Regions from separate parts of the Homo sapiens genome. Here regions 2, 3 and 4 are each linked to region 1. Evidence: fine-mapped expression QTL. A gene starts in region 1. Each other region holds a variant in brackets. All regions are shown on one strand. Distances are between the middles of the regions.

Region 1 (2,681 bases):
AACTGCCGGGGAGCTCAGAAATGCACGAGCAAGACATGAGCGTAGGGGAGGTTCCCGGGGTGCCTCGACTGTCCAGGCTTGCAGCTGCAGGTGGAGAGGAGGCAAGGCTGTTTGCCCATTTCAGCCTCAGAACAGTCACAGCCCAGCAGCCGGCGGCCTGTCCATGATGACCATTCTGCTCCGGAGCCTACACAGAGGGCACTGTTCACCCTGCGGCCGCCTCCCTGCGCTCCAAGGATCAGCCTCATGATAAGGTCAGAAAGAACCTTGGCTTTAGGGTCTGTCCCGCGTGGCCACCTGTTCTGTATGTTAAAACCGACTTGCCTGCCATTTCTCTTCTTATCCCTCACACCCACCCACCCAGCCTGGGCCAGGCCTGGTTCTAGGGCGCGGCCAACGGTCGGGGACAAAATATTCATGGTTTCTGGGTTCGTGGTCAGGCAGTTTGGGTGGACACAAGCAAGTGCCACGTAAAATAAGCAACGGTGAGAATGGTTATGAGTCGCAATGACACTGTGAGGCACTTTAACAGGCTCATCGGCGTGGCCCTAGGCCCTGCCCTCTGTGAGCCCAGGTCACCCCCAGGACGCCCAGCGGCTGCTGCGCCACCTCCCTCCTCCCACTGTGGCCAGGCCTGGCGGGCGGGTGCTGCCTCCCGACACGCACACTTTGCCGGGGCAGGTCCGCGCCAGCGCCGTCGCCAGAAGAGCCTCACAAAGACGCGGCTGCCACCGTTTGGCGTCTTTGAAGACTGTTCAGCAGGTCTGAGGATGAGCTGCTCTGAGGGTTTTTCCCAACTTACCATTTTGATACAACGTCAAACATATGTAAAAGTCACAAGAATACGACAAGGAACTGCCATTAGAGCCTTAGGCGAATTCACCAACTGTTCCCACTTCTCACCGGTGTCACCTTCCCACCGTTCCCACTCCTCACTGGCGTTACCTTCCCTCCGTTCCCACTTCTCCTCAACGGCGTTACATTCCTGCGGTTCCCACTTCTCACCGGTGTCACCTTCCCACCGTTCCCACTCCTCACTGGCGTTACCTTCCCACCGTTCCCACTCCTCACTGGCGTTACCTTCCCTCCGTTCCCACTTCTCCTCAACGGCGTTACATTCCTGCGGTTCCCACTTCTCACCGGTGTCACCTTCCCACCGTTCCCACTCCTCACTGGCGTTACCTTCCCTCCGTTCCCACTTCTCCTCAACGGCGTTACCTTCCTGCGGTTCCCACTTCTCACCGGTGTCACCTTCCCACCGTTCCCACTCCTCACTGGCGTTACCTTCCTGCCATTCCCACTTCTCCTCACGGCGTTACCTTCCTGCCGTTCCCACTTCTCCTCAATGGTGTTTCCTTCCCGCCTTTCCCACTTCTCACCAGCGTTACCTTCCCGCCATTCCTACTTCTCCTCAACGACGTTACCTTCCCTCTGTTCCCACTTCTCACTGGCGTTACCTTCATGCTGTTCCTACTTCTCCTCATGCCATTACCTTCCTGCCATTCCCACTTCTCCTCACGCATTACCTTCCTGCTGTTCCCAATTCTCTCTGGCGTTACCTTCCTGCTGTTCTGCCGTTCACGCGTGTTTATATGTGTTTGCATGTGTTTACATGTGTTTGCATGTGCCTGTGTCTGCATATGCGCATTTCCCTGAATCGACGGAGGGTGAGTTGAGAGTTGAAGAAATTATGCCATTTTACTGCTAAATACCTCAGCGTGTACTTCCTGACAAAGACACTTCTTTTCATTACCACAGTATAGCTGTCAAAATCAGGAAAGTTCACACCAATGAAATATCTAATCCAGAGTCCATACTCAGATTTCATCAATTGTGCCTAAACATCCCTTTAGCTTTTTCCCACTACATCCTGGATCTAATCCAGGACCGCGGGCCTATGACCTTTTCAAAGTCCTAATTTCCATCCTTCTTCAACAGTTCTTGTAGCCTTTCTTTGTATTTCTTGACCTTGACATTTTTGTGAGTGTTTGTCAGCGACTTTGCAGAGTGCCCCTCAGTCTGGGTTGACGTTCGGATTTTCCATTTTATTCTAAGGTGGTTTTGGTAAATTGTATTATTCAAGGACTTTCCCCCATTTCATTGTAATTGCCAAATGTATTGGCATAAACTGGTTTATCATGTTCCCTGATTTCCCTTTTAGTGACTGTAGAATCTCTATATTTCCTCTTTCATTTCTGATATTGGCAATTTAGGCTTTTCCCTCTTTATTTTTCTTTTATCTTGGTTGATCTGTTTTGTGTTTTTGTTTGTTTAAGACAGGATCTCACTCTGTCTCCTGGGCTGCAGTGCAGTGGTGCAATCATAGCTCACTGCAGCCTCAAACTCCTGGGCTCAAGTGATCCTCCTGCCTCAGTCTCCTGAATAGCTGGGACTACAGGCATGCAACACCACACCTGGCTACTTAAAGAAAATATTTTTTGGAGAGATGGGGTCTTGCTGTGTTGCCCAAGCTGGTCTTGAACTCCTGGCCTCAAGCAATCCTCCTGCCTTGGCCTCTGAAAGTGCTGGGATTACAAGTGTGAGCTTCGGTGCCAGGCCTCCTGATCAGTCTTATGGGGTCTGGCTCTGTCACCCAGGCTGGAGTACAATGGTGCAATCTCAGCTCACTGCAACCTCTGCCTCCCGGGTTCAAGCCATTCTCCTGCCTCAGCCTCCCGAGT
Region 2 (2,681 bases), 33 kb before region 1:
AGCCTGGACCTTCCTCCTCGCCACACAGAGCCTGGGCCTTCCTCCTCCCCACACAGAGCCTGGGCCTTCCCCACACTCCCCACACAGAGCCTGGGCCTTCCCCACACTCCCCACGCAGAGCCTGGGCCTTCCCCACACTCCCCACGCAGAGCCTGGGCCTTCCCCACACTCCTCACGCAGAGCCTGGGCCTTCCCCACACTCCCCACGCAGAGCCTGGGCTTTCCTCCTCCCCACACAGAGCCTGGGCCTTCCTCCTCCCCAAAAAGAGCCTGGGCCTCCCCACACTCTCCACTCAGAGACTGGGCCTTCCCCACATTCCTCACACAGAGCCTGGGCCTTCCTCCTCTCTACACAGAGCCTGGGCCTCCCCACCCTCCCCACACAGAGGCTAGGCCTCCCAATACTTCTCACACAGAGCCTGGGCCTTCCTCCTCCCCACACAGAGCCTGGGCCTTCCCCATACAGAGGCTAGGCCTCCCCACACTTTTCACACAGAGCCTGGGCCTCCCTACACTCCCCACACAGAGCCTGGGCCTTCTTCCTCCCCACACAGAGCCTGGGCCTCCCTCCTCTCCACACAGAGCCTGGGCCTCCCCACACTCCCCACGCAGAGCCTGGGCCTTCCTCCTTGCCACACAGAGCCTGGACCTTCCTCCTCCCCACACAGAGCCTGGGCCTTCCTCTTCCCCACACAGAGCCTGGGCCTCCTTACACTCCCCACACAGAGCCTGGGCCTTCCCCACATTCCCCACATAGAGCCTGGGCTTTCCTCCTCCCCACGCAGAGGCTGGGCCTTCCTCCTCCACACACAGAGGCTGGGCCTTCCTTGTCGCCACACAGAGCCTGGGCCTCCCCACACTCCCCACACAGAGGCTGGGCCTCCCCAGACTTCTCACACAAAGCCTGGGCCTTCCTGCTCCCCACACAGAGCCTGGACCTTCATCCTCCCCACACAGAGCCTGGGCCTTCCTCCTCCCCACACAGAGCCTGGGCCTTCCCCACACAGAGGCTAGGCCTCCCCACACTTCTCACACAGAGCCTAGGCCTCCTCACACTTCTCACACAGAGCCTGGGTCTCCCTACACTCCCCACACAGAGCCTGGGCCTTCCTCCTCCCCACACAGAGCCTGGGCCTCCCTCCTCTCCACACAGAGCCTGGGCCTCCCTCCTCTCCACACAGAGCCTGGGCCTCCCCACATTCCCCACATAGAGCCTGGGCTTTCCTCCTCCCCACGCAGAGGCTGGGCCTTCCTCCTCCACACACAGAGGCTGGGCCTTCCTTGTCGCCACACAGAGCCTGGGCCTCCCCACACTCCTCACACAGAGCCTAGGCCTTCCACCTCTTCACACAGAGGCTGAACCTTCCCAACACTCCTGACACAGGGCCTGGGTCTTCCCAC[G/A]CTCCCCATACAGAGCCTGGGCCTTCTTCCTCCCCACATAGATCCTGCAGCTTCCTCCTCCCCACACAGAGCCTGGGCTTCCCCACGCTCCCCACACAGAGCCTGGGCCTTCCTACCATGCGACAAGCCCGTAGGCGTGCCGCCAACCGCACCTGCAGTCACCAATCAGGGTCTTTGCAGAAACTGACAGGCTGAGGCTAAAATTTGTATCCACATGCAAGGACCCACAGTGCTCCAGACAACTTCAAGAAAGAGCACAGCGGGTGCTCTCAGCTCTCCACTCTAAGGCTTCCTGTTGAGCTGCAGGGATCAGGATCACGCTCCTCCGGTGGAGATTAGGCCAGGGTTTCCCTCCGGGACGCCTCTCTTCCAGGAGGAGCCTGTCCATTGTGTCCCTGCAGCTGCCCGCTAGATGAAGAGCAGCCGCCCACAGTGTCTCCAGACATTGCCAAATGTCCTTGGGGAGCAGGTCTACATGTCTTCTGCTGTTTCCCGGGGAGTAATCACAGTCTTACCGGGAACACAATTGGCGGCTGCTGGCAGCGACTCAACTCGGCCCTCAGTGTGGTGTGACCATCCTCCCTGCATCCCTGGGTAGCTGTGGGCAGGAGGCTGCTTTGGGGTGGGGTGCGGACGCTTCTCCGCCCCTCGTCCCTGCCCACCTCCTCCTCCCCCTGCTCTGCTGTTGGGCCCTCTCAGGTCCTGGCAGGCCTGGCATCACAACACTGGCCTCTCCGTCCTACCTGAGCTCCAGCGCACAGGCCTGCTGGGCAGGTCGGGAAGAGAGAATCCGTAAAAGTGCCTGAGAATGCCGCCTGTGGACAGACCTCGGAACAGGGCTATTTACACTGGTCCCAAGACCTCTCGTCGGAGCGCCTGGCCACAGAAGGGGATGCTCGGCCAGGGCCACGGCCACGCTTGGCCGGACTTCAGTTAGAACAACCTGGAGGGTCTGATGGAAGACGTAAACTCCTTCCAGAACAATATATCCACACACATCCCCATGTACACATGCACTCATACCCCTCCCAAAAACAGACCCACCAGCAGGCTGGCCCTGTGCCCCTGCGGCCCAGGCTGTGGCCCAGCAGCCACCCTGCGGTCCTGGGGCCCCTCCCTCGAGGAGCCTGCAGCTGAGCAGCGGAGACCTCAATGTTGGGCAGGTGCCACCTCCCTGATGAGACCACGAACGTGCTGGCGTCTGGCGCCCCTCGCTAGCACTGATGAAGCAAGCTGTCCCACCAGGACCGAGGCCTGAACCCACAGGAACCGAGTCCTCT
Region 3 (2,681 bases), 37 kb before region 1:
GGCGGCAGACGCCTCCGTCCCGGGGAGCAGGTCCTCGGCGGCAGACGCCTCCGTCCCGGGGAGCAGGTCCTCGGCGGCAGACGCCTCCGTCCCGGGGAGCAGGTCCTCGGCGGCAGACGTCCACAAGCACGGGAAGTACCCGCAGCACCTCGGGATGGCTGCACCGCAGTCCTGCATGTCTGGGCCTCGGTGCCGGCCAGGATGGAGAGCGCAGGAGGCCACCACCCCAGGCTGTGTGCCCCGGCCTGTCCAGCGGCTGCAAGCCTCCATGCCACTAAGGAAGCCATGCCAGGCTTCACAGAGGTCAGAAAAAGCGTTCCGTGCTTCCCACACGTTCACGGATCTTAAAACTCTTTATGTGGTCCCACAAGTCCAGGTGTCTGCCTGGTTAAATCATTTCCACCATTCACTCAGGCAATTGTGAAATGTATTACAGTGGATAGTCTTTAAAAATGCACCAAGGCTTCAAAATTAAAAACTATTCATATCCTTAACATTAGTGAGCTTTTAATTTAAAATAAATCTCGTGAGATCCTGAATGTCTAACAGTAGGCTGGCGGGGATAATGAGCCTCCTGGTAGAATGTTTACCTAGAGAAGGTCGCTTTCGACCAGTGGTCAGGAGGTAACAGGAGGGCTGGGGCCTGAGGGATGGGCAGAGGCCAACCGGGCAAAGGGCCAGGACAGTGTCCTCAAGCCGGGGCAGAGGAACATGCTGTGCAGGGGCCACGGGCGGTGGGGGCAGAGTTGGGCCACAGGAGCCTCCCTAACAGCGACCCCACGTCAGCAGGGGCCCACCCGAGAGCCTCAACCTGGGATACACAAAACATTGCTCTCAGTTCCACAGCAGCCCTTGGAGATGGGTCCTGTTACTGCTGCCATTTTGCAGGGACAAGCCCTGAGGCACAGGGAGCTGAAGGAAGGGCTGCTGGGAAGGAGGAAGTGGGGCCGGACCCAGGCGTTCCATAGTCATTCTGAATTGGGGACACCGTGCCGTGAAAACCCAGAAGATGGAAATGGGGCCCACAGAAGCCGGTAAAGGGCATCAAACACAGGAGCCTCCCACGCTGCTCCCATCCTCCGTGCGGCATGGGCTGCTGTTTCCAGCCTTGACCACGCTTCCCACCTGCACCCTGGTGGGCGGTCCCTCCAAGGGCTGCCTGGCTGTCAAGGCCACGTGAACTGCATCTCCTATTCTGAAACCATTTCCAGATCAGCACAGCCCTCAGCGTGACTGGACGGCTCCCCCCGTGCTGAGCCATGGCCGTGTCTCCTGCGCCACTGATGGTTGGTTTACGTTCACTCTTAGGTAACCTGGGCAAAGCACACAGCAA[G/C]TGCTCAATGAAGACAGCACACAGGGAGGCCCCAGCATGTGGCTGTGCATCCGAGGGTCCCCCTTCTTCACTCTCTGTGTGTAAAGCGACACTCAGTTTGCTCAAAACCATCCCTGATAAACTGATCACATTTTCCCTGCTCTGTGGAAGAGCCTGTCACAGTTCCTGAAAGCATCGGCAAACCTGATGTATGCAGTCTTACACACTTGTCGTTGTGTGAAGCTTCTTCTGGAGGGCAATACTCTAACGTGTATTCTTAAAATATTAAAAGTGAAAATTCCCTAGTCATTTCATGTAAATATACTCATCTTAGGGAAAAATCCTAAACGCAGAAAAATGTTTTAGGCACAAAATGTTCACTGCAGCCCTTTATGTAATAAGCAAAAAATTATACGGTAGCCCCCCCTTCTCTGAGAGGATACGTTTCAAGACCCCCCAACCCAGTGGAGGCCTGAAACGTGGAGTAGTCCGAAACCCGATTATACTGTGATTTTTCTAGACGGAAATCCCTACGATAAACTTCAATTTCTAAATTAGGCACAATAAGATATTTATAACAATAACTAATAATAAGATACAATCATAACACTATACTGTAACAGAAGTGATGTGGCTGTGGCCTCTCCCTCAGAATAGCTTAATATTTTCATACTGTAGCTGTCTGCAGGTAACAAACTGCAGAAAGTGAACTGCGGGTAACGAGGCACTGCCGGTGTGATTTACACGTCCAATAATGGGACTGGTGGAGGATGTTCTGGATCATCAGCATCATGAAATTTTACGCCGTCCGTAAATTGGACTCTAGAAACAACTGTGGTGCTGTGGACCCGTGGCCACAAGAAAGGTAAAGAGAAACGGGCAGGTGTAAAATTGCAAACACCATCTAACTGCAACTGTGCAAAACACAGGTAGGAAAGACGGCAATGTGCCAACCACGGACCGAAGCCCTGGGGGCCGTGGCCTGGTGAACTGCTCTTCCTTTCTTTGCCTTTTGTCCAACTGCACGGTGAGCAGCGCCTCATCCCCAGGCAGCAGTGTCATGAAGCCACTTACTTTGCTTTCCATCTTCTTCAGGTCTGAGAGGCAGGCAGAGGAGATCTCCATGCATTTCAAGGTCAAGGAAAAACGCGCCAATTCAAAAAGCAAAAGCATTCTGCAAACAAACAAACCAGCCAGCACCGGCTCAATAGGGGGCACAGGAAACATGGCTGCAGGCGAGAATCCATGTCCCCCGTTCAAGCAGAAGCAGGAAATAAAGGTAGGATAAGAAATAAATAAAATTAAGTTAATTAGAACAGAAGCCCTGTGGGGAGGCCCCAGCAGGGCTTCAAGCTACAGCACCGGAGCC
Region 4 (2,681 bases), 43 kb before region 1:
TGGCCCCTGCACTGGGCTGGAGAGAGTGGGGCCGCCTGCGTTCCCAGAGCCACTGGCGAGTGCCCAGAGAAGCTCGGGCAGTGAGGATGCAACACACCTGCCGAACCCTGGCTCAGTCCCCGCACATGGGCCGTACGGCCCCGTGTCCCATTACCCAAAGCCAGCTCAGGGTCTCCCTGGGACAGATGTGATGGCTTCAGCTTTGACCCCCGTGATCCAGGGAGCCCCGTCCTGTGCCTCAGGCAGTGGCTCAACCCCATTCCCCAGAGCAGGGTGTGTTGAAGTCCTCGCCCCCAGGACTTCAGGGTATGACCTTCTTTGGAGGTAATTTGGGTCAAATGAGGTCATCAGGGTGGACCCTAGTCCAATCTGACTGGTGTCCTTCCAAAGGGAGGAAACGAGGACACAGACCCCCAGAGGGGATGGCCCTGTGAGGATGCGGGGAGGAGATGGCGTCCACAAGCCAAGGAAGAGCACTCAGGGGGAATCAGCCCTGCCCACGCCTTGACTTCCAGCCTGGGGCTGGGAGGAGTAAGTTCCCGTAGTCTAAGCAGCGGAGCCTGTGGGGTCTGTCCCGGCACACAGGGCACCCGACTTGACTGGCGTGTGCACAGAAGACCGTCGCTGGGCTTTGCCAGACCCGGCGGGCCGAGATCGAAGGACACTGCCGGTGCAAGGTCCTTGTGCATCCAGGGGGCGGTGGCAGGGAGCATGGGGACTGGGGAGGCCCCGGGGCAGCCTGGGAGCCATTCCAAGGTGGACCGTTCTGGGCTGGGAGAGCCCAGTGCAGAGCTCACCTTTGGCCTCATTCTCACTGTCCAGCACAATCTGAAACGCGTCAGGGGCTAAGGCCAGGCCTGCATTCACCAGGAGGGCCCGCTTCTTCCTGACGCTGTCCTTTGGTGTAGCTTTTTTTGCCTGTGAAAAGCAGAGACTGATGAGCAAGGGGCCGCTGGACTTTCCACAGCACCTTCTCCAACTTCTGGAGCCTCCTGGCCTTTGGCAGGGGCCTGTGTGGTCCTCGTGCTCATAGACACAGTGACAGCTCGGTCCCAGGCCTCCTTGCTTCAGGCAGCCCTGGGCGGCTCCCGCCCTGCTGTGCCCTCAGAGCCCCGCCCCGGCCCCATGCTGGGGCTGCAGCACCCAGCCTCCCTCACTTCCCCGGGGCGGCACCTGCTCAACGGCCATGATGGCCTTGTCCTCTGCGCGCTCAGGGGCCTGGTATAGCGTGGTGCACAGACGCAGCCGGGTGGAGGCCATCTGGATCCTGTCCCGGTAGAGGCCCAGGCTGTCCAGGCGCGCGGCTTTCCGGAGGTGCTCCGTGGCGGGCTCCAGCCGGTCCTCGTCCTCCTC[G/A]ATCTGCGCCATCTCCATGTGCACTTGACAGCGGAGAAGCGTCATGAGGCTGCGGGGGTGGCGTGGCATCAGGGGCCCTGGCGGCGCTGCGCCTCTGTCAGGCTGGGGTCACACCCTCCAGAGGAAGGCCTGCAGTGGCCCCAGAGTGTAGGGCAGGCTTGGTGCCCGGTGCCCCTGGCTTTCTGCCATCCTTCCAGTGATGTCCCTACCTGGCCCTGGGGACTCACAAATGGGGACAAGGAGAGAAGCCCCTGCAGACCGCAGAGGCCTCGGCAGCTCACGACGGCAGCCCCTGGAAGGAAACCTGGGCGCTAGTGCAAGACTGCCCGGCTCTCTGCCTGGGGACAACTTCCTGAAGTGTGGGGTGTGGTTCCCACAGGCCACGGCGGCAGGGGTCGGGGTGCAGGGCTGCGAAGGAGGCTAGGGTCTGGAGAGGAAGGGCCGTGCGGAGCAGCCCAACCAGCCCGTGTGGGGGTTCCCTGGACCCCCTGGCCTTGAGCAGCCATGTAGGGGTACCCCGGAACCCCTGGCCTCAAGCAGCCATGTGGGGGTGCCCCGGACGCCCTGGCCTCGAGCAGCCATGTGGGGGTGCCCTGGAACCCCTGGCCTTGAGCAGCCATGTGGGGGTGCCCTGGAACCCCTGGCCTCGAGCAGCCATGTGGGGGTGCCCTGGAACCCCTGGCCTCGAGCAGCCATGTGGGGGTGCCCTGGAACCCCTGGCCTCGAGCAGCCCATGTGGGGGTGCCCTGGAACCCCTGGCCTTGAGCAGCCATGTGGGGGTGCCCTGGACCCCCTGGCCTTGAGCAGCCATGTGGGGGTGCCCTGGAACCCCTGGCCTTGAGCAGCCATGTGGGGGTGCCCTGGAACCCCTGGCCTTGAGCAGCCATGTGGGGGTGCCCTGGAACCCCTGGCCTCACGCAGCCCTTGTGGGGGTGCCCCGGACCCCCGGCCTCGAGCAGGCTGTGTGTGACAGGAGCCTGCGTTTGATGGCCCCAGGCTTGAGAAGCAGTTCTAGACACAGCTGAGCCGGGATCCAGGGTTCATTCTGTGCTGTGGGAAGTCGAAGGAAGGCCCAGCAGGGGTGTGAGGGGTGTGGTCACCATGTTTTAGGGTATGTGTCTGTGTGAAATGAGCTGGAGTGATGCTGGCCTGACACAGACTGTGCTAAGTTAAGGGTGCATGTTCTTAGCCCCAGAGAAATCTTCCATTCCTCCAAAAGGTATAGTCGAGAAACCAAGAAGCCAATAGAGAAAACTAAATAGAACTCTAGAAAAATTCAGGGAGCCCCAGAGAAGGTGGGAAGGAGCACTGGCAGTGCAGGAAGGTAG

Which allele goes with the higher level. Alleles are on the strand shown, and positions count from the first base shown. SD is a standard deviation of normalised expression in the study named. Not every link is listed here.
For the expression in monocytes after R848 of the gene that starts at base 1,049 in region 1, A is the high allele of the variant in region 2 and G is the other (moderate effect, 0.73 SD a copy in Quach 2016).
As copies of G replace C in region 3, the expression in sun-exposed skin of the gene that starts at base 1,049 in region 1 goes down (large effect, 1.6 SD a copy in GTEx).

The links. PIP is the estimated chance that this variant, and not a neighbour inherited with it, causes the effect. A credible set is the group of variants that fine-mapping cannot tell apart.
Region 2: its variant is the best candidate, but not a certain one, in a credible set for the expression of LINC01166 in monocytes after R848 (Quach 2016, PIP 0.75).
Region 3: its variant is the best candidate, but not a certain one, in a credible set for the expression of LINC01166 in sun-exposed skin (GTEx, PIP 0.54).
Region 4: its variant is the best candidate, but not a certain one, in a credible set for the expression of LINC01166 in unexposed skin (GTEx, PIP 0.60).

Annotation. Positions count from the first base shown.
Region 1 is chr10:132,964,241-132,966,921 of GRCh38, forward strand. It overlaps LINC01166 (long intergenic non-protein coding RNA 1166), which reads right to left and starts at 1,049. Exons shown (of 2, transcript NR_120627.1): 1 at 946-1,049. It overlaps LINC01168 (long intergenic non-protein coding RNA 1168), which reads left to right and starts at 1,294. Exons shown (of 3, transcript NR_046231.1): 1 at 1,294-1,667.
Region 2 is chr10:132,931,143-132,933,823 of GRCh38, forward strand. The region is part of intron 8 of CFAP46 (cilia and flagella associated protein 46); the gene reads right to left. Among named protein-coding and RNA genes, the nearest start is that of CFAP46, 10 kb to the right of the region's middle. RefSeq lists an enhancer at 791-860. The variant G/A (reference allele first, on the strand shown) is at 1,402.
Region 3 is chr10:132,927,319-132,929,999 of GRCh38, forward strand. It overlaps CFAP46 (cilia and flagella associated protein 46), which reads right to left. Exons shown (of 58, transcript NM_001200049.3): 9 at 2,387-2,486. Among named protein-coding and RNA genes, the nearest start is that of CFAP46, 14 kb to the right of the region's middle. The variant G/C (reference allele first, on the strand shown) is at 1,334.
Region 4 is chr10:132,921,307-132,923,987 of GRCh38, forward strand. It overlaps CFAP46 (cilia and flagella associated protein 46), which reads right to left. Exons shown (of 58, transcript NM_001200049.3): 12 at 1,174-1,402; 13 at 798-918. Among named protein-coding and RNA genes, the nearest start is that of CFAP46, 20 kb to the right of the region's middle. The variant G/A (reference allele first, on the strand shown) is at 1,354.